Homo sapiens: one gene and its partners. The protein of the gene in region 1 binds, or shares a complex with, the protein of each later gene. Each region holds a gene or a part of one and is shown in the gene's direction. Other genes may lie near its edges.

Region 1 (6,985 bases):
AAAGAAAGAAAGAAAGAAAGAAAGAAAGAAAGAAAGAAAGAAAAGCAAGCAAGCCAGCAAGCCAGCCAGCCAGCCAGCCCCACATTGCTGGCGGGGCTGTGAAATGATGCAAACGCTGGGGAAAATATTGTGGCTGATTTAACAGACGGATACAGTGCATGACTCGCAACCACAGCAGAACATCAAAGGGCTTGACGGCCATTTCTCCGTCCACTCCATGATGTATAAATGGCTCACAGACACTTGAGAACATGCTCCACATCGCTGGCCATTAGGGAGATGCCAATCAAAACCGCAGCGAGACACCACGTCGCACCCACCGGCATCGTTAGTACGCGACAAACAAAAAGCCACAAAGTAGCAAGTGTTGGCGAGGACAAGAACCGTGTCCCTGCTGCGCTGCTGGGAAGACAGTTTGGCGTTTCCTCAGAATATTTAACACATAATTACTCTGTCACCCAGCAATTCCCTCATAACTATACACCAAGAACGCTTGAAAACGGGATCGGGAAGCGCCGTTTGCACACCCACGTTCACAGCAGCGTTACTCGCCGTCGCCCCAAAGGGGAGGCAGCCCAGGTGTCCATCAAGATGCCCACAGATGAGCGGACGCGGTCGATGCGGTCCCTGCACACAGCGGGACACAGTTCCCCACAAAAGGGAAGGAGATTCCCACACAGGCCAGGCCGCGGCGGCGAAGGCGGAGGATGCTGCGCTGAGAATCCAGCCGGTCTCCAAAGGACAAATCCCGTGAGGCTCCCCCTGCGCGCAGTCCCTGGAAGCGCTGAATCCACAGACAGAAAGTGGACGGGGCGCCGGGGCTGAGGAGGGGAGGGGGCGTTTGATGGGGACAGAGCTTCATTCTGGGAGGACAGGAGAGTCTGAGAACGGATTTTGGGAGGACGGGAGCGTCTGTGAACGGATTTTGGGAGGACGGGAGCGTCTGTGAACGGATTTTGGGAGGACGGGAGCGTCTGTGAACAGATTTTGAGAGGACGGGAGAGTCTGAGAACGGATTTTGGGAGGACGGAAGAGTCTGAGAATGGATTTTTGGAGGACGGAAGAGTCTGAGAACGGATTTTGGGAGGACGGGAGCGTCTGTGAACGATTTTGGGAGGACGGGAGCGTCTGTGAACGATTTTGGGAGGACGGGAGCGTCTGTGAACGATTTTGGGAGGACGGGAGCGTCTGTGAACGGATTTTGGGAGGACGGGAGCGTCTGTGAACGGATTTTGGGAGGACGGGAGCGTCTGTGAACGGATTTTGGGAGGACGGGAAAGTCTGAGAACGGATGGTGGGGATGGATGCACCGAATGATCCTGAATCGCGCACTTCAAAGCAGATAAAATGGCAACACCGGCCCCCCAACAGTCACGCCACGCTGAAGCTGGAGACGAACTCGCCCCAGCAAGGTGCTCCAGGGGCCTCCGGAACTCCGGCCGCAGCCCCTTCCCCGGGGCCCCCCAGTCCCCCCCCAAACCCTCCCCCAAGCCCTCCGGCCCCTCCGCCCCCGCAGGCTCCGAGGCTTCGCGGTGCGGTTCCCTCTGCGGGTCCCAGGCCCGCGCTCCGTTCGCCCCCCAGGCCGGGACGTCCCCCTCCCCCAGCCGGCCGAGGGGCGCCAGCGCGGCGGAGGGGGCGGGAGGCCGGGCCGGGGCGACAGCTGGGGGGGCGGCCCTGACCTTCCCGGGATCGCTGGGCGCGGCCGGGCCGTCCCCTTTCCGGGCGCCGCCATAAAGGGGCCTTGCGGGGGCCCGGGGCCGTGGCCGCAGCGCTCAGCTCCTGCGCCCCGACCCCGCCATGGCCCCCCGGCCCCTCCTGCTGCTGCTGCTGCTCCTCGGGGGCTCCGCCGCGCGCCCCGCGCCCCCCAGGTGAGCCGCCCGCCAGGCCCGCCCGCCCCCCGGGCCCCACCCGCCCCCAGTGCGCCCTGACCCCGACCCCCGACCGCCCGCAGGGCCCGGCGACACTCAGACGGGACGTTCACCAGCGAGCTCAGCCGCCTGCGGGAGGGCGCGCGGCTCCAGCGGCTGCTACAGGGCCTGGTGGGGAAGCGCAGGTGAGGCCGGGTGGGGTGGGGGGTCCTGGCGTGGTGCCCCAGCAGCAACGCGCGACCCCCCAGCTCCAGGACTAACTCTGTTTTGGGGCGGGGGGCAGCGAGCAGGACGCAGAGAACAGCATGGCCTGGACCAGGCTCAGCGCGGGTCTGCTCTGCCCGTCAGGGTCCAACATGCCCATCCTGCAGGCCTGGTGAGCACCCGCCCCACCGCAGACCCCACTCCAGACCCCACCCCAGACCCCTCCTTCTGTCCTGGCCTCCCCGGGTCAGCGCTGGTGGCCACTGGAGGCCCAATTCCAGCAGCGGGGCCGGGGTCTCCAGCCCCAGCCCTCAGACCCTCACGTGCTGTCTCTGCAGGATGCCCCTGGACGGGACCTGGTCTCCCTGGCTGCCCCCTGGGCCTATGGTTTCAGAACCAGCTGGCGCTGCTGCAGAAGGAACCTTGCGGCCCAGATGAGGAAGGAACCCCCTCACCACCTGCCCGGCCCAGGAGCGCAGCTGCATTTGGGGTGGGGGGCAGGATGGGGGAGAGGGGGAGGGGTGGTACTTGGCACCAATAAAGGAGGAATCAGACCCAGACGCTGGGAGTTGTCTGTGTCCACTCAGTGTAATCGAGGCAACCCCTGTGTAGCGGGGCTGAGGGATGGATGGAGGCCCATCCACCCAGGAGGGACTGACCACACCCAGCTGCCCTTTACACCTGCAGGCACGGCGGCCCCTCATCCTTATCTCTGGCATCAGGGCCACCTCCTGTACCTCGACTAAGTACTGCAGGGCCCCGCCCCACCCCTTGTCATCCATTAGGAAACATTCTGGGGCTCGGGGGATCCCGGACACCCTCTCAGCTCCTGCCCGGGGGCCCATGTGGTCAGTGTTTCTGTAAGGGGTAGTGGGGAGGGTGTGAAGGGGCCAGGGGGGCTCAGGCGGGCAGGAAGAGGGGAGGGTGGAGGTGTCACCTGGGGTGCCAGGAATCCACTCTGGCGTGAGGACTCCGGACCCTCTGTCTCGTGTGGCCTCGGACCAGTGGCTTGACCCCTCAGAGCCTGTGGAGCACGGAGCGTGCAGGGCTTGAAGGCGACCATGAGGGCACCGTGCAGGGTTAGGACACTGAGCCCAGCCCCAGCCATGAGAGGCCAGAAGCTTCGGCGCACAGGCCTGGAGGAGGAGAACTCCACCTACCCCTCACGACAGCCACTTCCTCGCCCCGACCCTACCCAGTGGCCTCTCCCTAGAGCTGGGGGCTTCTGGGGGGCCAATGAAAAGAGCAGGGCAAGTGTCGAGTCTCACCTCACCCCCTCTGTCGGGCACCAGGGCCCCCCAGGAACTCCCAGCTGCCCCTCACAGCCCCGCCTTAGCCTCAGTCACTAAGGCCCTGTCCAGCCCCGCCCTGAGAAGCCGACTTGTCTCTGGGGCAGGCAGGGGTGTCCCCAGGACACAGTGAGGAGAGCCTTTTCCTTCAGAACCTGCTGTCAGGCAGGGAGGGAGGTGCTCCCTGGGGAACACCCGGGTTCTGAGCCTCAAGGGGTGGCCTTAGGAACTTTGCCTGAGGGAGATCTTAGGGGAGGAGCCAAGCCAGGGCAGCCTGGGCTAGGGAGGCAGGTTCCAGACACCCCGACACCAAGGGCCGAGCCCCCGCCCCCAGCCCCCAGCTTCTCTCCCACACCCTAGCCCTGCCCCTGCCCTGCCCCTACCCCCACGGCACCCATGAGCCGCTCTCCAGTCCCTTCTGCCCTGTGCCTCGGTGCCTGTGACCTGAGCCCCCTGGTTGACCCCTGCACTCAGTCCAACTTGGGCCAAACGACTGCCCCTCCTTCTGGCAGTGGGCTGGACCAGCCGGCCAGCGGGAGCCCCCTTGGCAGAAGCCGGTCGTAAAGGATCATAAACTGGGCGGCGTCTGGCTGGGGCGAAGGTCGCTGAGGTAGGAACTGCGCCAGTCCTAGACGCCAGACCCGCTCAGACCCTCCTGCCAGGTGACAGCCGCCAAGATGGGGTCTTGGGCCCTGCTGTGGCCTCCCCTGCTGTTCACCGGGCTGCTCGTCCGACCCCCGGGGACCATGGCCCAGGCCCAGTGTATGTGCGGGCAGGGGTAGGTGGGGCACGGGCGGCGGGGAGCCAGGGGCTGGGAGGCACTGATCCCTCCTCTGCAACCTTACAGACTGCTCTGTGAACAAGGACATCTTTGAAGTAGAGGAGAACACAAATGTCACCGAGCCGCTGGTGGACATCCACGTCCCGGAGGGCCAGGAGGTGACCCTCGGAGCCTTGTCCACCCCCTTTGCATTTCGGATCCAGGGAAACCAGCTGTTTCTCAACGTGACTCCTGATTACGAGGTGTGGGCGGCAGGCGGGCGGGATATGGGGGTCCCGGGAGAAGGGCACCTGCATCCTCAGGCCACACCTCCCTTGGGGGCCTAGGAGTTCTATGCCTGCGGGCATCCACTGACACCCATGCTTGGTGGTGCCTGCCCTAGAAGGCTGGGCCATTTCGGGATGAAGCTGCCTGGGCCCACACCCTCAGCACTGACCACTGATGATGGGGACCCTGGGCCAGCGCCTGCCCACTTGGCCTCAGTCTCCCCACCTGTGGGGCAGGACGGTGACTGCAGACCTGTCTACATCCACAGGAGAAGTCACTGCTTGAGGCTCAGCTGCTGTGTCAGAGCGGAGGCACATTGGTGAGTCCCCGCCCCGCTCTCCCCGCCCCACCCGGCCACCTCTGCTGGGCTCTGCCCTGCCGGTCCAGGACCAGTCTTTGATGACGTCAGCTAGGGTGTGGTTTCAAATTCCACCCCCCCGAGGGTGATGCCCACATTTCCTCCAGTCCAGACTCTGCCCTGAGCTGTGGAGTCCCCGTCACTGACCCCTTGTCCAGCAGACACCCCATCCAGTGTGCCCAAGACTCCCACCCACTCCCTCAACCATCCACAAGGGAGGCACCTTTATCCTGCCAGTCACGGGGACCACCTTGGTTCCCACTCGCCCTCCCTCCCCACGTGTCCCCCACAGCCCCCCACTGGTAAATCTGTTGGCTGTGCCCCAGCTCGACCCAGAAATCCAGAGTCTGTCCACCTCCAGTCCCATCAGGGCCGGGACACCAGCACTCATTTTGGGAAACTTCCAGCTGGCCCACCGGCTTCCCTGTTGCCCTTTGCTGGCCCCAGTCCACTCCACGTGGCAGAACAGCCCCTGTGGATGTTGTAAACCAAGGCTGCCCAGCCCACCCCAGCCCTCCACGGCTCCTTTCTCACCGAGTCAAACCCAGACATACTGTGCAGAGGCTCCACTGCAGCCTCAGGGCTCCCGCCAGGCACGCCCCTCCCTCACCGGCTCAGGACTGCAGTCTTCAGAGAAATCCCAACCACCCTATGCCCTGTTGCATCCCAGCCCCGCTCCCCCAACATCCTGCTTCTTGACCGGCGGCATTTTTTTCGGCTTTATTAAGGAAAATTGCAGAATCCTGAGGCCAGCACAGGCCCCCTCACCTACCAGCACACAGCAGGCTCTGTGCCCTCCATGCACCACGGCACGTCACCTGCACATATCTTGGGATATGTCTCTGAAAGAGAGAGACTCTTTTTTGAGACAGAGTCTCACTCTGTCACCCAGGCTGGCGTGCAGTGGAGCGATCTCGGCTCACTGCAACTTCCGCCTCCCGGGTCCAAGCGATTCTCCTGCCTCAGCCTCTTGAGTAGCTGGGATTACAAGCATGCGCCACCACGGCCGGCTAATTTTTGTATTTTTAGTAGCGACGGGGTTTCTCCATGTTGGTCAGGCTGGTCTCAAACTCCTGACCTCAGGTGATCTGCCCGCCTCGGCCTCCCAAAGTGCTGGGATTACAGGTGTGAGCCACCGTGCCCGGCTGACAATCCAGTTTCTTCACAAATAAATCTCCAGGAAAAAAGATGGGAGAAAGGGAAAGGTACAGATGAACAGAAACTCAGGAGAATTACCAACCAGGTCCATAATGTGGGCCCTGATTCAAACAAACAATTGTTAAAAAACCCTTCAGAGACCACGGGGAATGTGGCATCCTGGACATTTGAGGTAGAAAGTGACCGCTTTTCCCAGGTGTGACAACGACATTGTGGTTATGTTCTAAAAAGAAGAGTCCTGGCTGGGCGCCGTGGCTCACACCTGGAATCCCAGCACTTTGGGAGGCCGAGGCGGGTAGATCACCTGAGGTCAAGAGTTCGAGACCAATGTGGCCAAAATGGTGAAACCCCGTCTCTACTAAAAATACAAAAATTAGCTGGGCATGGTGGCAGGCACCTGTAATCCCAGCACTTTGGGAGGCCGAGGTGGGCAGAGGCCGAGGCAGGAGAATCGCTTGAACCTGGGAGGCAGAGGTTGCAGTGAGCCGAGATCACACCACTGTACTCCAGCCTGGGTGACGACAGAGCGAGACTGTATCCAAAAAAACCCAAAAACCAAAAAACAAAAACAAAAACCAAAAAAAAAAAAAAACAGAGAAAAGAAAATGGATTGTCTTTCCTCACCTGAGATTCTGCTGGCTGCATCCCCAAGTACCTGCATTATTTTTCTGTGGAGCACCTGCCACCTCCTGGCTTTATAAAGTCCTTTTTGTCTGTTGTTATAAGTCCTGCCAGGACAGGCACCACCAGGCAGAGATTTGTCTCTTGTGATCTCTGAATCCCAACGCCTAGAGCTGTGCAGCCCCTGTAGCCCCCCAACAACTGAATGAGCGAGTGGACGGATGGCCGTCGAGGGGTGCACCCCACTCACGGCGGGGACGGGTGGCCGTTGAGGGGTGCACCTCACTCACGGCGGGGACGGGTGGCCGTTGAGGGGTGCACCTCACTCACAGCAGGGACGGGTGGCCGTCGAGGGGTGCACCTCACTTAGGGCGGGGACAGGTGGCCGTTGAGGGGTGCACCTCACTCACGGTGGGGACGGATAGCCGTCGAGGGGTGC
Region 2 (7,024 bases), on another chromosome or scaffold:
TACAGGTGTGAGCCACAGCACTCAGCCTGGTTCTGCTAGTCTTTAATTACAAAAGTAACATGAGCTGAACCCAGAAAATTAAACCATACAGACGCACACAAAACATGAAGAAAAAATGTCCTATAATGCCATGCTACTAAGATGTATATAGTTCTCTCTATATATACTATAGTGCATACAAATACATTTTAATATTCTTCTATAAATTTCAGGGACTTTGTAGGACTCTAGTCAACAAATACATTTCTTAGCCAACCCCTCTTTTGGACACATAGTTTGTTTTCCCTAGTTTGAATAGGGCTATGATGACTATCCTTGTACATAAATCTTTGCTGACATTGTCTTTTGTGTTTTTTTGAGATGGAGTCTCTCTGTCACTCAGGCTGGAGTGCAGTAGCGTGATCTTGGCTCACTGCAACCTCCACCTCTCGGGTTTGAGCAATTTTCCTGCCTCAGCCTCCTAAGTAGCTGGGTCTACAGGCGTGCACTACCACGCCGGGCTAATTTTTGTATTTTTAGTAGGGACAGGGTTTCACCATGTTGGCCAGGCTGGTCTCGAACTCCTGACCTCAGGTGATTTGCCCACCTCGGCCTCCCAAAGTGTTGGGATTACAGGTGTGAGCCACCGGGCCTGGCCACATTTTCTTGAGAATAAATTCTCCAAAGTGAAATTTCTGGATCAATTTGCATTTGTGTTAGTCCATTTGTACTGCTATAACAAAATACCTTAGATTAGGTAATTTATAAAAACCAGAAATTTATTTCTTACAGCTCTGGCAGCAGAGACATCCAAGATCAAGGCACCAGCAGGACTGGTGTCTGATGACAGCCCTGTCTCCGCTTCCAAGATGGTGCCTTGTTGTTGCATCCTATGGCTGTGTCCTCACATGGAGGAAGGGAAGGAAGGGGCAAAAAAAAAAAAAAGGCAAATTCCCTGTGTCAAGTCCTTTTATAAGGGTGCTAACCCCATTCATGAGGGTAGAGTCTTCATGACTCAATCGTCTCCTAAAGGCCACACTGCTTAACGCTGTTACATTGACGATTAAGTTTCAACATGAATTCTGGAGGAGACACATTCAAACCATAGCAGCATATGTGCAATTTAAATAGTTTTGTGTGTGTGTAAATGGACATGCTGTCCTTCAGAAAGTGAGTACCCATTTTGGCCAACATGATAGGTCCAAAATGATATATTAGGCTGGGCGTGGTGGCTCACTCCTGTAATCCCAGCACTTTGGGAAGCCAAGGCGGGCAGATCACTTGAGGCCAGGAGTTCGAGGCCAGCCTGGCCAACATGGTGAAACCCCATCTCTACTAAAAATACAAAATTAGCATGGTGTGGTGGTGCACGCCTATAATCCCAGCTACTCAGGAGGCTGAGGCACAAATTGCTCCTGAATCCCTTGAATCCGGGTGGTGGAGGTTGCAGTGAGCCGAGATCAGGCAACTGCACTCCAGCCTGGGCAACAGAGTGAGACTCTGTCTCAAAAAACAAAACAAAACAAAACAAAATGATACACCAGTGTGGCTTTAATGTTCTTTTCTTTGGTTGCCGATGAGGTTGAAAATTCTTTTTATGCTTAAAAAGAATTGGCCATTGGATTGCCACTTTTGTGAACTGTGTATTTATAACTTTATTCCCCATTTATATTGGGGTTTTCAACCATTTCTCCTTGATTGATAAAAACACTTTTGAAAGTTAACAATATCAACTCTTTGTCATATAGGTTACAACTGTTTTACAATACACAATTTATATTTTTGACAACAGATTTTTAAATATAAATGTAAACATAAATATATATATATATATACGTATAAGTCTATCAATCTTTGTTGTGTGATTCTAACTTTGAGGTCATGCCTCAATACTGACTGATCCTTTAGTGCTATTTTTAGTTTCATTTGTTATTTTAAATACTTTATATAATTTAAGATCTGAATTATGATCTAACTCTGCATTCTCCAAGTGGCTACTCATTTATTCCAACACAATTAGTTGTTATAGTCTATCTCTTTCTCCACTAAGTTGACATGGTAACATCATTTCTTTCAATGTAATATAAATATCCAGTCCCCCCAATTTGCTTATATTAATATTTATTAAACACTGGCTATGGGTGCAAATATTCTTCTAACCTTGTTTTTCCTAGTCCTTCCTTCTCAACTCCTTTCTTCTCACGGGATCTAGTACATCTCAGATTTGTTTCATTGCCCTCAAAAGCATCTGGGATCTGCTGTGTTGAGCAGGCCTGATGTAGGCTAAAAAAAAGAACAGAAGTCTTGTGAGGTGCCTTTTTGACCATAGCTAATCCTGGGAACCAGTGTGAGGTCAAATTTCCAATTAGATTTAAGGAAGCTGAAAAGGGAAGAAAATTACCATCTCACATCAGTCAGAATGGCTATTATAACATCAAAAAATAACAGATGCTGGTGAGGTTGAGGAGAAAAGCGAACACTTATACACTGTTGGTGGGAGTGTAAATTAGTTCAACCATTGTGGAAAGCAGTGTGACAATTGCTCCAAGAGCTAAAAGCAGAACTACCATTCGAGCCAGCAATCTCATTACTGGGTATATACCCAAAGGAATATGAATCCTTCCACAATAAAGATACATGCCTGGATCATGCCTGTAATCCTAGCACTTTGGGAGGCCGAGGCGGGTGGGTCATTTGAGGTCAGGAGTTCAAGACCAGCCTGATCAACATGGTGAAACCTCATCTCTACTAAAAGAAAAACACAAAAAATTAACTGGGCGTGGTGGCACACACCTGTAATTCCAGCTCCTCAGGAGGCTGAGACACAAAAATTGCTTGAACCCGCAAGGAGAAGGTTGCAGTGAGCCAAGATCACGCCACTGCACTCCAGCCTGGGGAACAGCAAGACTCCATCTCAAAAAACAAACAAACAAACAAACACATGCATGTGAGTGTTCATTGCAGCACTGTCACAATAGCAAAGACATGGAATCAGCCTAAATGTCCATCAATGACAGATTGGATAAAGGAAATGTGGTACATATACAGCATGGAATAGTATGCAGTCGAAAAAGAATGAGATCACATATTTTGTGGGAACATGGGTGGAGATGGAGGCCATTATTCTTAGCGAGCTAACGCAGGAACAGAAAACCAAACACCACATATTCTTACTGATAAGTGGGAGCTAAATGATGAGAACATGTTGGCTTAGTGCCTGGGTGACAAAATTATCTACAACAAACACTCGTGATATGAGTTTACCTATATAACAAACCTGCACATGTACTCCTGAACCTAAAATTAAAAAAAATTGAAAATTGAATTTAGAAGCTAATCAACTATTGAAATACTGAAGTCCATTTCAGTCTGATGATTTAAGAGTTTATCTGTCATTACCTGATAGACAACGAATCCTATAGCAACCATTTATATTAAAACTCTGGCTTTGTTAGAAAACTATTTTCCTTTGTTTTTAAAATTTGAAGATGGAAAACAATCATTACATGTATTTTCCTGCACTAGGAAGCATAATGGCCCAATTACAAAAAAAAATTCATTTTACCTTTAAAGTGTATGAAATTTCTTGGTTTTATTTTTTAAAATGGAAACTAGACTTTTTCCCCCAGATTCTTTTTTTTTTGTGATGGAGTCTCGCTTCTGTCGCCCATCCTGGAGTGCAATGATGGGATCTTGGCTCACTGCAACCTCCGCCACCTAGGTTCGAGTGATTCTCCTGCCTCAGCCTCTGGAATAGCTGAGACTACAGGTGCCTGCCACCACACCCCGCTAATTTTTGTATTTTTAGTAGAGACAAGGTTTCACCATGTTGGCCAGGCTGGTCTGATTCTTAAAGAAATACATACTTATTGTAATATTTCACATCATATTGAATAGAATTGATAAAGTAAAAATTATACCAATTCCTACAGTTATCAACATTTGGGTACATATCCTTCCAGACTTTTTCCTTTGAGTACATGCAAACACATGTACATTCTCTCCCTTTAAAAGACAATCATATAAACTATACTGAAACCTTCTAATTATTTAACAATATATCATGGACCATTTGCACTTAAAAGTTGAGATCCACGCCACTATTTTATTTTTTTTTTAATAATTTCAACTTTTTTTTTTTTGTGAGAGACAGAGTCTTGTTCTGTCACCTAGGCTGGAGTGCAGTGGCACAATCTTGGCTCACTGCATCCTCCACCTCCCAGGTTTGAGTGATTCTCCTGCCTCAGCTTCCCAAGCAGCTGGAACTACAGGTATGCGCCACCATGCCCAGCTAATTTTGGTATTTTTTAGTAGAGACAGGGTTTCACTATATGTTGGCCAGGCCGGTCTCGAACTCCTGACTTCAGGCGATCCACCTGCCTTGGCCTCCCAAATTGTTGGGATTACAGGTGTGAGTCACTGCACCACGCCAGTTTCAACTTTTAGATTTAGAGGGTACGTGTGCAGGTTTGCTGCATGGGTACACTGCATGGTGCTGGTGTTTGGGGTATGACTGATCCCATCACCCAGGTAGTGAGCATGGTACCAAATAGTTTTTCAACCGTTGCCCTCCTCTCATAGTCCCCCGTGTCTGTTGTTGCTATCTTTACGTCTGTGAGTACCCAATGTTTAGCTCTCACTCATAAGTAAGAATATGCGGTAGTGGGTTTTCCATTCCTGTGTTAATTTGCTAGGGATGGGATAATGCATGCCACTATCTTTAATGACTTCATGGTATTCTGTTTTATGGTGTTTGTTTGTTTGTTTTTGAGATGGACTCTCGCTCTGTCATCCAGGCTGGAGTGCAGTGGTGCGATCTCAGTTCACTGCACCCTCAGCCTCCCAGGTTCAAGCAATTCTCCTGCCTGTCTCCAGAGTAGCTGGGGTTACAGGCACATGCTACCACCCCCACTTAATTTTTGTAGTTTTAGTAGAGATGAGGTTTCACCATGTTGGCCGGGCTGGTCTCAAACTCCTGGCCTCAAGTGATCAACCCACCTTGGCCTCCCAAAGTGCTAGGATTATAGGCGTGAGCTACTGTGCCTGGCCAGTTTCATTATTTTTATTAATTAACAAAAATTATATATATTTATGGTGTACAACGTGATTTTTAAAAATATGTATACATTGTGGAATTAAGTCAAGCTAATTGACTATGTGTTATCTTCTATACTTTTTGTGATGAGAACATTAAAATCTACTTGGTAGGCAATTTTCAAATATACAGTGTATTGTTATTAACTATAGCCATTGAGCTGAGCATGATGGCTCATGCCTGTAATCCCAGCTCTTTGGGAGGTTGAGGCAGGAGGATTGCTTGAGGCCAGGAGTTCGAGACTAGCCTGGGCAACATAGCAAGACCCCATCTCTATAAAAAATAAATAACTAATTTTTAAAAAAACTATAGTCATCATGTGTTACAATAGATGTCTTGTACTTATTCCTCCTGTCTCACTGAAATTTTGTATCCTTTGACCAACTCCCCAGTCTGCCTCTGCCTAGTTACCACCATTCTACTTTCTGCTTCTAGGAGACTTTTCTTTTAGACGGAGTCTCACTCTGTCACCAGGCTGGAGTGAAGTGGCACGATCTTGGCTCACTGCAACCTCCGCCTCCCGGATTCAAGCAATTCTCCTGCCTCAGCCCTCCCAAGTAGCTGGGACTACAGGCACGTGCCACCACACCCAGCTAATTTTTGTATTTTCAGTAGAGATGGGGTTTCACCATGGTGGCCAGGATGGTTTCAATCTCTTGACCTCGTGATCTGCCCACCTCAGCCTCCCGAAGTGCTGGGATTACAGGCATGAGCCACTGCGCCCAGCCTCTAGGAGACTTTTTTAGATTCCACATTTAAGTGAGATCATGTGGTATTCGTCTTTCTGTGCCTGTCTTATTTCACTTAACATACTGTCCTCCAGGCTCATCCATGTTGTCGAAAATGACAGGATCCGTTTGTTTCTTAAGACTGGATAGTATTCCATTGTGTGGAGCCACCATGTTTTCTTTATCCATTCTTCCACTGATGGACACAGATTAATGCCATAATATATGTAATCAGTTGACTATTCATGTTGCTTAATTTGAACCCACTCTTTTTCCTGTTATAAGTAAGTTTGGGAGGAACATTCCTGCTCATTCATCTTTGCACAAAGATCTTATATTTCCTTAGGACAAATTCCTAAATGTAGAATTGTAGATTCAAAAGAGTGCCTCATTTTAAAGGCTTTTTGTGTGTATTGTGCCAGGAAATTTGAACCACTTTCTGCTTCTTCCAGCAGTATTTCTTTCCCCATACTCCTGCCAAAACCAAGTATTACTATTCTTTTTAATCGTTGCCTATCTGATTGGCAAAAGGCAGAGTATTGTTTCAATTTGCATTTCTTTGACTATTAGTGAGTCCAAATATTTCTTTTTATGCAGAAAAACGTTTTTGAAAGAATAGTTGAGAACTTCACAAAAAATCAACTTCAGGAGGAAAAATTGGAATGTAACAGATGCTCAGGGTAATTTAAGCAAATTGCCTACTTAGTGACAGTAGTGCTAAGCCAGCTTTAAAAACTATTGCCCAAATGCACTGATCTACCAAAAATCAAGGGAAAAATGGGTTATTTTAAAATCTCTTCAGTGAGTTTCTCTTTTGGGGAAAAGGGAAATAGAAAAAAACAACACTAGACTGAGCTTAGCCCACGAAAACCGTAGAGCATCAATGTTGAACTCAGATTATCAAACGACAGGACTAGTTTTCCACCCAGGCAGTTGTATGCAATGGTTCTATCAAGAAATGTGAACAATGACAAGTATGGAATTTAAAAGGACTCCATGCAACTTGTCTGTAGAAAATATTTCCATTTAAATTGTACATCAATTTGGAAATGTGTCTGTAAGTAGAAGTTTTGCAAGTTTTTTGTTTTGTTTTGTTTTGTTTTTGAGACGGAGTCTTGCTCTGTTGCCTGGGCTGGAGTGCAGTGGTGTGATCTCAGCTCACTGCAAGCTCCGCCTCCTGGGTTCACGCCATTCTCCTGCCTCAGCCTCCCGAGTAGCTGGG
Region 3 (7,024 bases), on another chromosome or scaffold:
AGAAGGGGGACCTGTTGGTCCTCACAAAGAAGCAGGGGCTGCTGGCCTCTGAGAACTGGACCCTCGGCCAGAACGACAGGACAGGCAAGACGGGGCTGGTGCCCATGGCCTGCCTCTACACCATCCCCACGGTCACTAAGCCCTCGGCACAGCTGCTGGTAACTGGCACGCTCCCCTGTCCTCAGCCTGGGTACCCGAGGTCAGGGTGGAGCAGTCCTGGGATGCCTAGTTGGGAGGCCTAGCTCAGGGCCTGCAGCCCACCTAGCAGAGGCCAGGAGGGCCACCCGGGCAGCCCCCACCATTCCTGCGGCAAGGTGTGTGTGCAGTGCCAGCCCAGCTCTTGGTACTTAGTAGGTCCTCAATAAATGGGTGTTCCCTCCCTCTTCCATCATGGGGGTGTCCGGGGGACAAACCCAATCTTTCTCTGCCTCATTTACACTCTGACCCAGGGGGACTCAAGTCTCTCCCTGCACAAGGGAACCACCCACCCCAGCCCCCAAGACCAGCCTCTCCGGAGGCAGGAATGGCAGGCATTGCAACATGTACATACTGAGTGCTGAGTATGTGCCCTGTGCCTGTGGTACGAGTCTGGGCATAATAGCAGCTCCACCCTCAGGGCAGACATTTGGGCAGATAATGACACATGGATGGCAACTGTGCAAAGTGCCACCAAGGAGAGGAACAAATAATAGGGTGGGGAACTTACCCTGTCTGGGAAGGCATCCCCGAGGGAGGGACATTTGTGCTGAGGCCTGAAGTTGGTGGCAGACTAGGCAGGCAGGGCTGGGGTGAGAGGTGGCCCCATGGAGAAGGGGAGCTGGGGAGCTGGGGGTCTGAGAAACCCAGAGTGCCGTGGCCCCCAGAACGGGTGATGTGGGTGCCACAGCCATTGGCACTCACCCTCCCAAGGGAAAGGAGACAGGCACCAAGAGGTAGAGTCATGGTCCTGGGTCACACGGCAGGTGACAGGGGTGTGGGTAAGCCCTGGCCTGTTCAGCCCTGGGCCTGACCCCTCCCAAGTCACTGAGGCTGCCAGGCCGGGAGGAGCCTGCAGGAAGGGCCTCATGGGCGGTGGCTCCTGGGCACCCACAGGCCTGTGCCCCCTTCAGAGCTTGCTTGCCATGTCACCAGAGAAGAGGAAGCTGGCGGCTCAGGAGGGGCAGTTCACAGAGCCACGTCCTGAGGAGCCACCCAAGGAAAAGCTGCACACCCTGGAGGAGTTCTCCTATGAGTTCTTCAGGTGCCCCCCAGCCCCGCTCCGCCTCATTGCACCCCCACCTCCCAGCCCCACCTCACCTCATTGCACCCCCTGCTCCCAGCCCCGCTCCACCTCATTGCACCCACTGAGAGCTGCAGAGAGGCCACGCCACCCATGTGGAGCCTGCCTGGCCTTCCCAGGCCAGGGGAGTCAGGAGGGGCTTGCGGCAGGGTGGGGTGCTCTGGCCCTCCCACAGCCACTCAGGGGTGTCAGAGGACAGAGAAGCGTGGGACAGAGAAGGCCACAGGGCAGGCCTCACACCAGCCTCTAACCTCACAGGGCTCCAGAGAAGGACATGGTGAGCATGGCCGTGCTGCCCCTGGCCCGTGCCCGTGGCCACCTGTGGGCCTATTCCTGCGAGCCGCTGCGACAGCCGCTGCTCAAGCGAGTCCACGCCAACGTCGACCTCTGGGACATCGCCTGCCAGATCTTTGTCGATATCCTTCCCCACCAGCCTGCCTGCACCTCGTCAATGCCAGGGCAGAGGCACCCAGCACATCCTGGCCCTACAGCTGTGCTCTAGGGCAGGAGAGCCCAGGAGATCTGAGAAACCTGGAGTGGCGGGACAGAGCCCACACATGGCTCACCGCAGGGCCGGGGTCGGGGTCAGCGTCTATCCCCAGTCTGTGTCAGCGTGGGGCTGCCCCAGCACTGTGCTCCTTGACAGCCACACCCATCCTCCGGTACATGGGCGACTACCCTTCTCGGCAGGCCTGGCCCACCCTGGAGCTCACCGACCAGATCTTCACACTGGCCCTGCAGCACCCGGCCCTCCAGGACGAGGTCTACTGCCAGATCCTGAAGCAGCTGACGCACAACTCCAACAGGTCTGCTGGGGCGGCGGCCAGCCCACGCGGGCACCCTCAGTCCTCATCCCGGCCCCTGAGGCCAGACCGAGGCTCAGAGAGGACACCGCAGCTGGTGGCGGCAGAACCCCTGCCTGGGCTCCTGCCTCAGCAGTGGGAAGGGTTGGGCCCTTGGTCTGCTCTGCTGATGTCCTAGGGGTGGTCAGAGCAGGAGAGGATGGCCCTGCCCACTCCCACCCTCTGTGTGTGACCTGGCAGGCCATGACCTCTCTGAGCTTCAGTGTCGTCTTCCACAAAATGGGTGCAATGCCCACCCGCCCCCATCTTGAGGGTGTGAAAGCCCGTGGCATCGGGCAGCCTGGCACAGCTGGCATGGTGCAGCCTGGCAGGTGCCCTCCCCCTCGGGCCCTCTAGACCCCAGGCAGCTCTCACATCCGTCCCTGCTCCCCAAGGTGCCTGCCTGGCCAGGGCCCCCTGAGGGGCCTTTCCCGGCTGACAAGTGCTACCCTTCAGGCACAGCGAAGAGCGGGGCTGGCAGCTGCTGTGGCTGTGCACGGGCCTCTTCCCGCCCAGCAAGGGGCTGCTGCCCCATGCCCAGAAGTTTATAGACACTCGGAGGGGGAAGCTGCTGGCCCCCGACTGCAGCCGCCGAATCCAGAAGGTCCTGAGGTGAGCCCAGTGCCTCCAGCCCCCAGCATTGGCCCTGGGCCCGCAGACCTGGGATGCTGTGGGGCCTGGCCAGCCTTCCAGGAGCTCATGGTCCTGGGAGGACTCTCCAGAAGCCAGTGTCAGCTTGGCAGGCAGGATTGGGCCCCGAGCTGCCAGAGAAGAGGGTGGAGGGTGAGGCCCAGGAGGGTCAAGAGAAGGCTCAGTCATAGCCACCAGCTCCCCTGCCCCACCACTGCCCAGCAGTGGCACAGAGGCACTGCCTGAGGGATAGAGAGAAACCTGGATGCCCCAGCCCAGGCCCTCAAGGCTGAGGTCAGAGGCCCATCCTTCCAAGTCCATGCGGCCTCCCTCATCCGCCCACAGCCGTGAAGCTCTTCCTTGGCCGTCTTTGCTCTCCCCCACCCCTCCTGCCTCCTCTGGCTTGGCCTCCTGTGGCCGTGAGGAGGGCAGGTTGACTGTAGGAGTGGCCATAATTTCAGTGGCAGCCGTGGTCACAGAGAGAGGTGGGCGCCCCATAGAGGCCCTGCCAGAGTCCCTGGCCCCTGCCCGATGCCCCTGTTGTGCGAGAATAAGAATACTGCCAGCCTTTCCTGCCGGCGCCTTCCCGGGAGCCCCTGGCCTGGCCCTTCCCCGTGTGTGCCCCAGGCTTTCAGGCACAGCTGCACCATCACTACCTCTGAGGCCGCGTGGAGCCAGGGGCAGCCCCCAGGACATGCGAGGGGCTGGAACCACCCCAGTGATGGTCACTGGGGTTTTCTTTTGTTTCTGGCACATGGTTTAGGGCCCACATCGGGGCTGGGGCATGGGTGAGGATGAGGGTGGGGGTGGCACCTGCAGCACACGCTGTCCCCCTCAGGACGGGGCCCCGGAAGCAGCCCCCGCACCAGGTGGAGGTGGAGGCCGCAGAGCAGAACGTCTCCCGCATCTGCCACAAGATCTACTTCCCCAATGACACCAGTGAGGTGAGGCCCTGCTCTGGTCTGCACGGCAAGTCTCAGGCCTCCAGAGGCCATGGGGCATCCTCCTTCCTGGCCCAGCCTGCTCCTTGGTAACCCCAGAGAGCCTTTTCTAGGGCTGTCCCATCCTAACCAGTCTCCCGCCCTCTCCCCATGGGATGCAGGCCCCACCTGCCCTTGGGTGCTTTGGAAGTCAGGCCAGTCCCAAGGTATGAGTTGGGGGATCCAGGCCCAGGACACAGGAGAGGACAGAGGGGTGGGCAGCAAGGGTGAGTCCCAGGACTTGGGGGCCCCTAGGGGCTTCTGACCATCTGGGGTGCAGGAGAGCAGGTATTCCCACTGTGTGTGCCTTGTGCACAGAGCCTGCCATGGCTGCTGGGGGAACAAAGGGGCCAGGGGGCAGGTAGGAGACCACCAGGACCCCACCGTGACACAGAGGCCTTGATCAGGGGCAGCAAAGACAAGCGGGCTGAGAGGCCAAAGTGGGCAGTGTCGCCTCGCGCCCTCTCCAACAGCACAATGGTCTTTTTGGCCTTGATATTCGGGTCCCGGTAACAGGAAGTTCCCACAGTCTGGCTGCTGGGCTCTCAAGGCGAGTCAAAAGGCCAGGCCTGCAGGGCCCCAGGACAGCGAATGCTGGGACTAAACAACATGAACCTCTGGCCAGGGTTCTGGAAGGGAGGCTTGCCCTGCTCAGGGCAGACCACATCCAACCCAAGTTTCATGAAGGAGCAAAAGTGCCAGGCTAGGAAGGCTCATCCTGGGCTGTACTGGCCCCTAGCCAGGCCCCGGGCCTCACCAGCTGCCTCTCTGTCCAGATGCTGGAGGTGGTTGCCAACACACGGGTGCGGGATGTGTGTGACAGCATTGCCACCAGGCTGCAGCTGGCCTCCTGGGAGGGCTGCAGCCTCTTCATCAAGATTTCAGACAAGGTGGGCCGGGCTGGGGCTGGGCAGACGGTGGGCGGACGGGCAGTGAGCGAGGCCCTAGGTGCTGCCTGTGGGGGCCTCAGCCTACCAGGGGCACCCATGCTGGACCAGGCTGCACGGCCAGGGCTGCTGGGACAGAGGTAGGTGGGGTCCTGGAGCAGAGCCAGCTCCACACGCCAATAGCCCACGCACAGCCGACTCCAGCGCAGCACCCAGGCCGTAGGCGGCCACTGGACCAGAACCCAGCAGGTTCTCAGGAGGACAGTCCCCGGAAGCCACCCAACTTCCCTGTACCTTCCCCTTCCCCAGGTCATCAGCCAGAAGGAGGGAGACTTCTTCTTTGATTCCTTGAGGGAGGTGTCTGACTGGGTGAAGAAGAACAAGCCCCAGAAAGAAGGTGAGGAGGCCTCTGTGGAGCTGGGGGAGGGCGTGGCTGGGTGGGTCGAGGGGGCACTGGCGGCCTCTGTGCGGCCCATGCCCATTCATCCATCCATTCGTTCCCGTGTGTCCCTGGGTTGTGGGAACAACCAGGCCCTGGGGCCCGGCGGTGAGGGCCAGCTCAGGCAGAAACAGGTGGCTGCACCTTGGAGTGATGAAGGATGCCCCAGGGCTGAGGGGCATGACCCTCATGGGCTGGGAGTGCGAGTCCAGGAATGTTCCTGGAGAAGGCAGCCTCTACACTAATATTGAAGGAAAATGTGGGGACTGGGGAGGAAGAAGCGTGGGGGCTTTCGAGGCAGGGAGGTGGCAGGCGCAGTGTGGGGGGTGGCAGGGGGTCAGGGCTGGTGTACCTGCTGGGACAGGCTTGGTGCCCACTGCTGGCCCTCGCCCAGGGGCCCCCGTGACGCTCCCCTACCAGGTGTACTTCATGCGGAAATTGTGGCTCAACATATCTCCAGGGAAGGATGTGAATGCAGACACCATACTCCATTACCACCAGGTACCGGGCAGGCTGCCCTGGTGGGCACTGGGGCCACCCCCATCTTCCCACACCTGTTCTGAGGCTGTAGAAGCCAGCAGGCCAGGGCAGGGCCAGCCTCAGCCCTGGGTACCAGCCCATGTGGTAGGCAGACCAAGCCCCTGAGGGCTCTGGAACCAGGAGCAGAGGGCAGCAATGTTTGGGGACAGTGACTGCACTGGCACCTGCAGCATGACTTGGAGAGGGTGGGACAGAGGGTCCTGTGACCCATGGAGCAGTGGCCGTGGCCTGCAGGGCCAACCACATGGGTGGAGCAGGCCATCACCTCCACGCAGATGTCAGGGGGCCCTGCCCTGACTCAGGGTCATTCCCCTGGCCTGAAACTCTCTACCCTGCTCAGTCCGTCCTGGATGGAGTGGGCTAAGCCCCAGTTCCCCACCATCTGAGCGGGAAAGAGGTTGGGGGCGGGTGGGCCGCAGCTGGAGACCCAGCATGCCCAGTGTGTCCATCACCCAGGAGCTGCCCAAGTACCTGCGCGGATTCCACAAGTGTTCGCGGGAGGATGCCATCCACCTGGCGGGCCTCATCTACAAGGCCCAGTTCAACAACGACCGGTCCCAGCTGGCTAGTGTCCCCAAGATCCTGAGGGAACTGGTGCCTGAGAACCTCACACGCCTGATGTCCTCGGAGGAGTGGAAAAAGGTCCCTGGTCGGGCTGGGGAAGGGTTCTTGTGCTGCTGCTCCTCCCTGGGCCCCTGCACCAGTGCCATGCCCTGCCTGGGCTCCAAGATCACATGGGTGCACATGGGTGGTGTGGAGGGTGGGCTGGCTCTGCACACACCACGCCTTCCTATGCCATCCACAGCACCGAGACTGTCCCATGCTGCATTCCTCCCCTCCCCTCCCCACCGTACTAGCCCTGGGGTAGGCAGGTGCTGCCCCCACCAGGGCTTTGGAGGGCCTCTGGGCACCCAAGTCCTTACTGGCCCTCCTGTCCCCCAGAGCATCCTTCTAGCCTATGACAAGCATAAGGACAAGACAGTGGAGGAGGCCAAGGTGGCCTTCCTGAAGTGGATCTGCCGGTGGCCCACCTTCGGATCCGCCTTCTTCGAGGTGAAGGTAAACCTTGCCCCACGCCAGGGCCTCCTACCCAAGCAGGCTCCGCTCAGCCCAGCCCCAGCAGGCCCAGCGTCAACCAGCACACATCTTGGGTGGGGCTGGCCGTGAGGCTGGAGGGCGTGGGTGTATGTGTGTATGTGCGTGTGGCCTAGATGAGCTCCTGGGAGGTGCAGCCTGGCCTCCCGGGCTGGACTATGACCGCCGTGTCCCTCCCTCCCAGCAAACCTCGGAGCCTTCCTACCCGGACGTCATCCTCATCGCCATCAACCGACATGGGGTTCTGCTCATCCACCCCAAGACCAAGGTAGCTGCTGGGCCTCCGGAGGGGCTGGGGGCCACCAGGTCCAGGGACCTGTGCAGGTGGGGCT
Region 4 (7,024 bases), on another chromosome or scaffold:
CAGGAGTTCGAAACCAGCCTGGCCAACATAGTGAAACCCCATCTCTACTAAAATTACAAAAATTAGCTGGGTGTGGTGGTGCATGCCTGTAATCCCAGCTACTTGGGAGGCTGAGGCAGGAGAATCACTTGAATCCAGGAATTGGAAGCTGCAGTGAGCTGAGATCATGGCACTGCACTCCACTCTGGGCAACAGAGTGAGACTCCACCTCAAAAAAAAAAAAAAAGAAAGAAAGAAAGAAAAAAAAGAAAACAAAACAAAACAAAAGAAGGGCCAGACGTGGTGGCTCACGCCTGTATGTAATCCCAGCACTTTGGGAAGCTGAGGCAGGTGGATCACCTGAGGTTAGGAGTTCAAGACCAGCCTGGCCAACATGGTGAAACCCCATCTCTACTAAAAAATACAAAAAATTAGCCTGGTGTGGTGGTGGGTGCCTGTAATCCCAGCTACTTAGGAGGCTGAGGCAGGAGAATCACTTGAACCCAGGAGAAGGAGTTTGCAGTGAGCAAGAGAGATCGCACCATTGCACTCCAGCCTGGGCAACAAGAGCGAAACTGTATGAAAGAAAAAAGAAAAAAGAAAAAATATGTATATAGCACTGAAGTAGTCATTATGGGAAAATGAGAATCTTGCTGGACTTCACACTTATGAGTTTAAAACTTTCTTTGTCTACAATTTCCTGCCCCCATATCCCCCTTCCTGCTAGAATATCAGTAGCAAAAGGGCCTGTCTTGATGATGGCTCTATTCTTTCTTTGCACCTGGAACGGGGCTGGGCACGTAGGTCCACAGTGGCCGTTTGTGAGATGAAAGAATGGCCTCAGTGCTGAAGATCTCAGAAGCTCTTGCAAACTGCTGACCTGAGCCTCTTAGATGGGAAACTGGGGCTGGGAGATGGGCCCAGGGGCTCCAGGCCTGATGACTGCCTGCGTGGGCCAGCGCTGGAGAGGAGGGTCCGGCTGCATCGGAGGGGCTGGGGGCTGGGAATGCCGATGGCCGATGACCAACCCCTGCTTACGTGCACAGGCCCACGACAATGATGAGCCGGGCACCAACAACAGCCGTCTGCTCTTCAACCTGCTGCCTGGCCCCTACAGCCACAACTTCTCCTTGGACCCTGACACAGGGCTCCTCAGAAACCTGGGGCCCCTGGACAGAGAGGCCATCGACCCCGCCCTGGAGGGCCGCATTGTGCTGACAGTGCTTGTGTCTGACTGCGGCGAGCCTGTCCTCGGCACCAAAGTCAATGTCACCATCACTGTGGAGGTAAGGCCTCGCTTAGCCAGGATGGGCCTGGGGGCCTCCCAAGCCGATAGCCAGCCCCTCCAGCTTGAGTCACACTTCTGCCCTCTGCAGCCAGCCTGCCTGGGTTACAATCCCGCTCACTCGTATGGCCCCAGGCAATTACTCAACCTCCCTAGGCACTCAGGCTCCTCATCTATAAAACGGGGGTGAAAAAGGTTAAAGATTAAGTGAGTTAATGAATGGAAAGTGCTTGGTAGAGTGCCTGACCTATAGACAGTATCAGTGAATATCAGCTCTAATTGTCACTCATAAAGTCCCACCTGAAACCCTCCTGTCTCCCTGCCACCATTGAAAAGCAAAGGGAAGGGGTGAAAATCAGCATTGCTGGTGTCTATTGCACATCAGGGCATCCGCCAAGGTTGGGATGGTTATTACCATTTTGTTTTTATTTATTTATCTATTGATTTATTTATTTTTGAGACAGGGTCTCCCTTTGTCACCCAGGCTGCAGTGCAATAGTGCCATCATGGCTCACTGCAGACTCAACCTCCCAGGCTCAAGCGATCCTCCTGCCTCAGCCTCCTGAGTAGTTGGGACTATAGGCATATGCCACCATGCCTGGTTAATTTTTTTATTTTTGTAGAGATGGGGTTTTTCCATGTTGCCCAGGCTGGTCTTGAACTCCCGAGCTCAAGCGATCCACCCGCCTTGGCCTCCTAAGTAGCTAAGACTAAAGATGCGTGCCACCATGCCTGGCTAATTTGGCTAATTTTTAAAATTTATTTTTCATAGAATCAGAGTCTCACTTATTGTCCAGGCCAATTTTGAACTGTTGGCCTCAAGCGACCCTCTCAACTCAGCCTCACAAAATGCTGGGATTACAGGCATAAGTCACTGAGCCCGGTTTATTACCGTTTTATTGATTGAGCAACTGAGGCGGGCCTAGTTGCTGTGGCTCATGCCAAAAACCTCAGTACTTTGGGAGGCCAAGGTGAGAGGATTGCTTGAGCCCAGGAGTTTGAGACTGGGCTGGGCAACATAGCGAGACCCCATCTCTACTAAAATAAAAAATTAGCCAGGCATGGTGGCATGTACCTGAAGTCCCAGCTACTTGGAAGGCTGAGGCAGGTGGATCATTTCAGCCCAGGAGGTTGAGGCTGCGGTGAGCTATGATCATGCCACTGCAATCCAGCCTGTGAGACAGAGCAAGACCCTGTCTCAAAAAAAGAAACTGAGGCACAGAGAGGTTCAGTACCTTGCCTGGGGGTCACAAAATTGGGTTTTGACTTCAATCAGTCTGGTTCTAAGGCTGCCACCAGCCCACAAGGCACCTTCCTCTGGAACAGTATTGTGACAAATGTGCACCTCTGCCGTGTCTGTGATGTGGATGGCACCCCATAGGGTTGTGCAGTGCACAGCCTGCACCACTGCACATAGCAGCCCTGTGTCCCCTGGACTGGGATGTGCCATTTTCACACAAGGGTCAGAGAGTGAGACCTCAGAAATGAAGAAAACGAAGCAGAATGAGGACTTGCTGGTTGTCCTTAGGGTGGGAGGGCTGCAAAGAGAGAACTTCATTTCCTGAGTGAACAGGTTTCTTCACCCCTGTGAGCCGTCCTCACAATTGCCCTATTAGTGGGGACTACTACCCCATTTTGCAGATGAGGACACTGAGGTCCAGAGAGGTCAAGGTCACACATGAGGCAGAGGTGGAGCAAGATGTGACTCAGTGCTCTTATCCACTCCTGTGAGTTAGGGTGACCTTGAGAATGCAGCTGGTCTTGTGCGTGGAGCCAATGATGTCATCGCTGGGAAATTAGCAGCAGAAAAGACATCTAGCTAAGGTGCAAGAATGTTGTCTTCCAAATGTTCATTCTAGGGTTATTCAGAAAAACAAACACCTGTTATGTGACCCACAAACCTGGGAAGGGCTGGAGTGCTCAGGGCATCCCCCAAGCACATGCCAGTGTTAGGAGACATAGGGGAGGGCAGAGTCACCTCCAGGCTGTGACAATAGTTGCAGGGCTCCAGCTGTGCCCAGTGGGCTAGGGCTGGCCACAGAGGTGAGAGCCAAAAACAGCTGGTGTCTGAGGCAGGAGCAGGTCTAAGCTTCTGCAGGTCCCCGGAGCCCAGCTCTGACTGAGCACAGAGCTGGTGTTGTGGGCTCAGTTGTGTGCAGGAGGGACAGGGGTAGGAGGGGACAAGGGAAAGTGTGGGCCTTGGAGCCTTTGTGGACATATAATGGTATTGGTGCCAACACAATAAATCCGAGAGATGGGAGTCAAGCTGGGCCAGGCAGGGTCGCAGGTGGGGACCCAGAACTGTGCTTCTAGAAAGCAGGGTCTAGAACAAGTCCTGAGCTGTGGTCAGAGAAACAGGAAGCAAGCAGGGCTTCCTGAGGATGGATGTGTAAGGCCAAGGTCCCACTGTAGGTCCCTGAACCCCGGGTGTGTGACCTGGGCAAGTTCCCTCCTCTCAGAGCCTGTCTCCTCATCTGGGAAGTGGGCAGTGAGGTCTGAGGCACTAGTAGAGTCCATGCCTTGGAGCACAGGGATTATTGGTTTCTCGGATTGGCTCTGGGGAGGGTGAGATTGGATCCCGGGGACTCAGACCTGTCTCTGACTGCAGGACATCAATGATAACCTGCCCATCTTCAATCAGTCCAGCTACAACTTTACGGTGAAGGAGGAGGATCCAGGTATGTGCTCCCTGGGCCAGGAGAGACACTGCGGCTGGGACCCAGTGTGGCTTTGTCAGGGTGGACCTCGAGTTCCAAGAGAGGCAAGGGCAGAGGAGGCTTCCGATGGCGGGGTCAGGAGTCCTTCTGAGCTCTGCCCCTTGTCCACAGGAGTGCTAGTGGGCGTGGTGAAGGCCTGGGACGCGGACCAGACGGAAGCCAACAACCGCATCAGCTTCAGCCTGTCGGGGAGTGGTGCCAACTACTTCATGATCCGAGGCTTGGTGCTGGGGGCTGGGTGGGCTGAGGGCTACCTCCGGCTGCCCCCGGACGTGAGCCTGGATTACGAGACACAGCCCGTCTTCAACTTGACAGTGAGTGCTGAGAACCCAGACCCCCAGGGGGGTGAGACCATAGTAGACGTCTGCGTGAATGTGAAAGACGTGAACGACAATCCCCCCACCCTGGATGTAGCCTCACTCCGGGGCATCCGTGTGGCTGAGAATGGCTCACAGCACGGCCAGGTGGCTGTGGTGGTTGCCTCGGATGTGGACACCAGTGCCCAGCTGGAGATACAGCTTGTGAACATTCTCTGCACCAAGGCCGGGGTCGATGTGGGCAGCCTATGCTGGGGCTGGTTCTCAGTGGCGGCCAACGGCTCTGTGTACATCAACCAGAGCAAAGCCATCGACTACGAGGCCTGTGACCTGGTCACGCTGGTTGTGCGGGCCTGTGACCTAGCCACGGACCCCGGCTTCCAGGCCTACAGCAACAATGGTAAGGCAGCCTGTCCTTGCAGGGCTTGGCAGGCCATAGCTTAGGGGCCGCGGGAAGGAGCCCTGGGCTGGAACTCACAAGGTCTGGGCTCAGATCTTGGCTCCAGCCCTTTCCAGCTGCAAATACTGGGAAAGTCCCAAACCCTCTCCAAGCTTCAGTTTCCCCATCTGTCCAGTGGAGTTGGGCAGTGGGGTGGGCTGTGAAGATTCAATGAGAATATGGATGTATGGCATTTATTGCAGTGCCTGGCATGCAGTAGCATCAAATTAATGCCATTATTTTACAAGATGCTGTGAAAGAAAGATAACACTGCAGAGCTAGATGTGTGCTTGTATCCCACTTCTGACACCAAATAGCAATAATAATCACATTAACAACTAGCATATATTGAGTCCTTATGACAGCCAAGAACTACACCAGGCACCTTGTAAGAATTTTTCCACTTCCACACAACCCATGGGGTAGGTGTTCCCTATCCAATTTTATAGATGAGGAAACTGAGGCAGAAAGTGGGTATTTAAACAACCAGCTTATATAGTTAGAATGTGTCAGTATAATGTCATAGGTGAGATCTACCTAGGCTGGGCCCAATCCTGGCCCACCACTATTGCTGTGTGACTTTGACAAGCTGCTTATCTGCTCTGAGGTCTGGGATGATACTCCCACCCACACAGGCCAGAGAAGACCGATCAGGCATTCTGGGTCAGGAGCAGGGAAGGGGACTGAGCATGGGGGAACACATGGGAGAGAAGCTGCGGGGCATGGGGTTGAGGCTGCGGGGCACGGGGTTGAGGCTGCGGGGCACAGGGTTGAGGCTGCGGGGCACGGGGTTGAGGCTGCGGGGCATGGGGTTGAGGCTGTGGGGCACAGGGTTGAGGCCCAGGCTCTTTGGGTCAAGCTTTTGCCCAGAGCCAAAGCCAGCTGACCTTGTCTCCTAGGAAGCCTCCTCATTACCATTGAGGACGTGAATGACAATGCACCCTATTTTCTGCCTGAGAATAAGACTTTTGGTAAGCAGCAACCCCATTCACACACCATACCCCTGCTCCATAAGGCCGCCTTTGAGCAACCCCGACAGACCCTCCTTGGACCCCAGGGGGAGCCTTTAGAAAGGGGGGAAGGCCTCTAATCCTGCATCTTCCTAGGGCTGCAATAGGAGAGGACATTGGAGTTTTCTTTTTTCTTTCCTTTTTTTCTTGAGACGGAGTCTTGCTCTGTCGCCCAGGCTGGAGCGCAATGGTACGATCTCAGCTCACTGCAACCTCCGCCTCCCAGGTTCAAGCAATTCTCATGCCTTAGCCTCCAGAGTAGCTGGGGCTACAGGCATGCGCCACCACACCTGGCTAATTTTTGTATTTTTAGTAGAGACAGGGTTTCATTGTGTTGGCCAGACTGGTCTTGAACTCCTGGCCTCAAGTGATCTGCTCGCCTTGGCCTCCCAAAGTGCTGGGATTATAGGCATGAGCCACCATGCCCAGCCAACACTGGAGTTTTCATTCCAGCTCTGTCCGACCTAATGTCTGGCCCTGGGCCAGGACTTCCCTCTCTGGGCCTCCATTTCCGCATGGTCCTGTGGGCCTGTGACCTCACCTGTGACAATGGGAGGTGGATGACTTGCTAACTACTGGCCCAGTGGTGGCTGTAATAGGGGTCTCTTTTGGTAGAGAGGTTGAGGGCAGGTTTAGGGGGATGAGCCCTGAGCTGGGCTCGTGACCAGCCTTGGTCCAGGTGGGCAGTGTCCCGACCCCGCTGACCCCGTTCCCGTTCACACCTGCAGTGATCATCCCTGAACTCGTGCTGCCCAACCGGGAGGTGGCTTCTGTCCGGGTAAGTTCTTGGCTCCAGCCTTTGTTGGTCATATGAGCCCCAGGGGACACAGGGCTGAGGCCTTCAGGCCTTCCATGGTAGAAAGAAAATATATGGGCTCCAACACATGAAAAAGAAAACCCCAGAAGGGAAACCAACACCTGTCTAATCAATGTAATCAAACTTCACTGTGATAAATGTAGCATTCATAAAAATGTCATGACCGTAAATACCACTTGCAGTCCAGATATTTCTTACTATACCAGAATTCTTGAGTAATACAGAGAACTCATAGCTAATTGTAAATTAAGCCAGTGCCTTGTCATTAAATAATTCTCAGAGCCAGCTGGGCACGGTGGCTCAAGCCTGTAATCCCAGCACTTTGGGAGGCCAAGGCAGGTGGATCACCTGAGGTCGGGAGTCTGCGACCAGCCTGACCAACATGCAGAAACCCCATCTCTACTAAAAAATACAAAATTAGCTGGGTGTGGTGGTGCATGCCTGTAATCCCAGCTACTTG

The links.
Region 2: CDHR5 (region 1) and ANKS4B share a complex: the UniProt entries of both Homo sapiens proteins name them as parts of the IMAC/intermicrovillar adhesion complex.
Region 3: CDHR5 (region 1) and MYO7B share a complex: the UniProt entries of both Homo sapiens proteins name them as parts of the IMAC/intermicrovillar adhesion complex.
Region 4: CDHR5 (region 1) and CDHR2 share a complex: the UniProt entries of both Homo sapiens proteins name them as parts of the IMAC/intermicrovillar adhesion complex.

Annotation. Positions count from the first base shown.
Region 1 is NC_000011.10:621,956-628,940, reverse strand, and holds the start of CDHR5 (cadherin-related family member 5 isoform 1 precursor), read left to right. Parts: upstream 1-3,985; 5' UTR 3,986-4,038; coding exon 4,039-4,123; intron 4,124-4,208; coding exon 4,209-4,384; intron 4,385-4,677; coding exon 4,678-4,728; intron 4,729-6,985. Other genes in the region: SCT (secretin preproprotein), read left to right, coding at 1,798-1,868, 1,952-2,053, 2,152-2,244, 2,411-2,510. UniProt on the Homo sapiens protein: Intermicrovillar adhesion molecule that forms, via its extracellular domain, calcium-dependent heterophilic complexes with CDHR2 on adjacent microvilli. Thereby, controls the packing of microvilli at the apical membrane of epithelial cells.
Region 2 is NC_000016.10:21,236,684-21,243,707, forward strand, and holds part of ANKS4B (ankyrin repeat and SAM domain-containing protein 4B), read left to right. Parts: intron 1-7,024. UniProt on the Homo sapiens protein: As part of the intermicrovillar adhesion complex/IMAC plays a role in epithelial brush border differentiation, controlling microvilli organization and length. Plays a role in assembly of the complex.
Region 3 is NC_000002.12:127,629,669-127,636,692, forward strand, and holds part of MYO7B (unconventional myosin-VIIb), read left to right. Parts: coding exon 1-158; intron 159-706; exon of another isoform or gene 707-1,109; coding exon 1,110-1,240; intron 1,241-1,537; coding exon 1,538-1,695; intron 1,696-1,931; coding exon 1,932-2,085; intron 2,086-2,577; coding exon 2,578-2,733; intron 2,734-3,589; coding exon 3,590-3,695; intron 3,696-4,507; coding exon 4,508-4,621; intron 4,622-4,927; coding exon 4,928-5,015; intron 5,016-5,451; coding exon 5,452-5,558; intron 5,559-6,053; coding exon 6,054-6,239; intron 6,240-6,539; coding exon 6,540-6,656; intron 6,657-6,876; coding exon 6,877-6,960; intron 6,961-7,024. UniProt on the Homo sapiens protein: Myosins are actin-based motor molecules with ATPase activity. Their highly divergent tails are presumed to bind to membranous compartments, which would be moved relative to actin filaments.
Region 4 is NC_000005.10:176,580,318-176,587,341, forward strand, and holds part of CDHR2 (cadherin-related family member 2 precursor), read left to right. Parts: intron 1-1,025; coding exon 1,026-1,265; intron 1,266-3,872; coding exon 3,873-3,942; intron 3,943-4,092; coding exon 4,093-4,698; intron 4,699-5,636; coding exon 5,637-5,708; intron 5,709-6,475; coding exon 6,476-6,525; intron 6,526-7,024. UniProt on the Homo sapiens protein: Intermicrovillar adhesion molecule that forms, via its extracellular domain, calcium-dependent heterophilic complexes with CDHR5 on adjacent microvilli. Thereby, controls the packing of microvilli at the apical membrane of epithelial cells.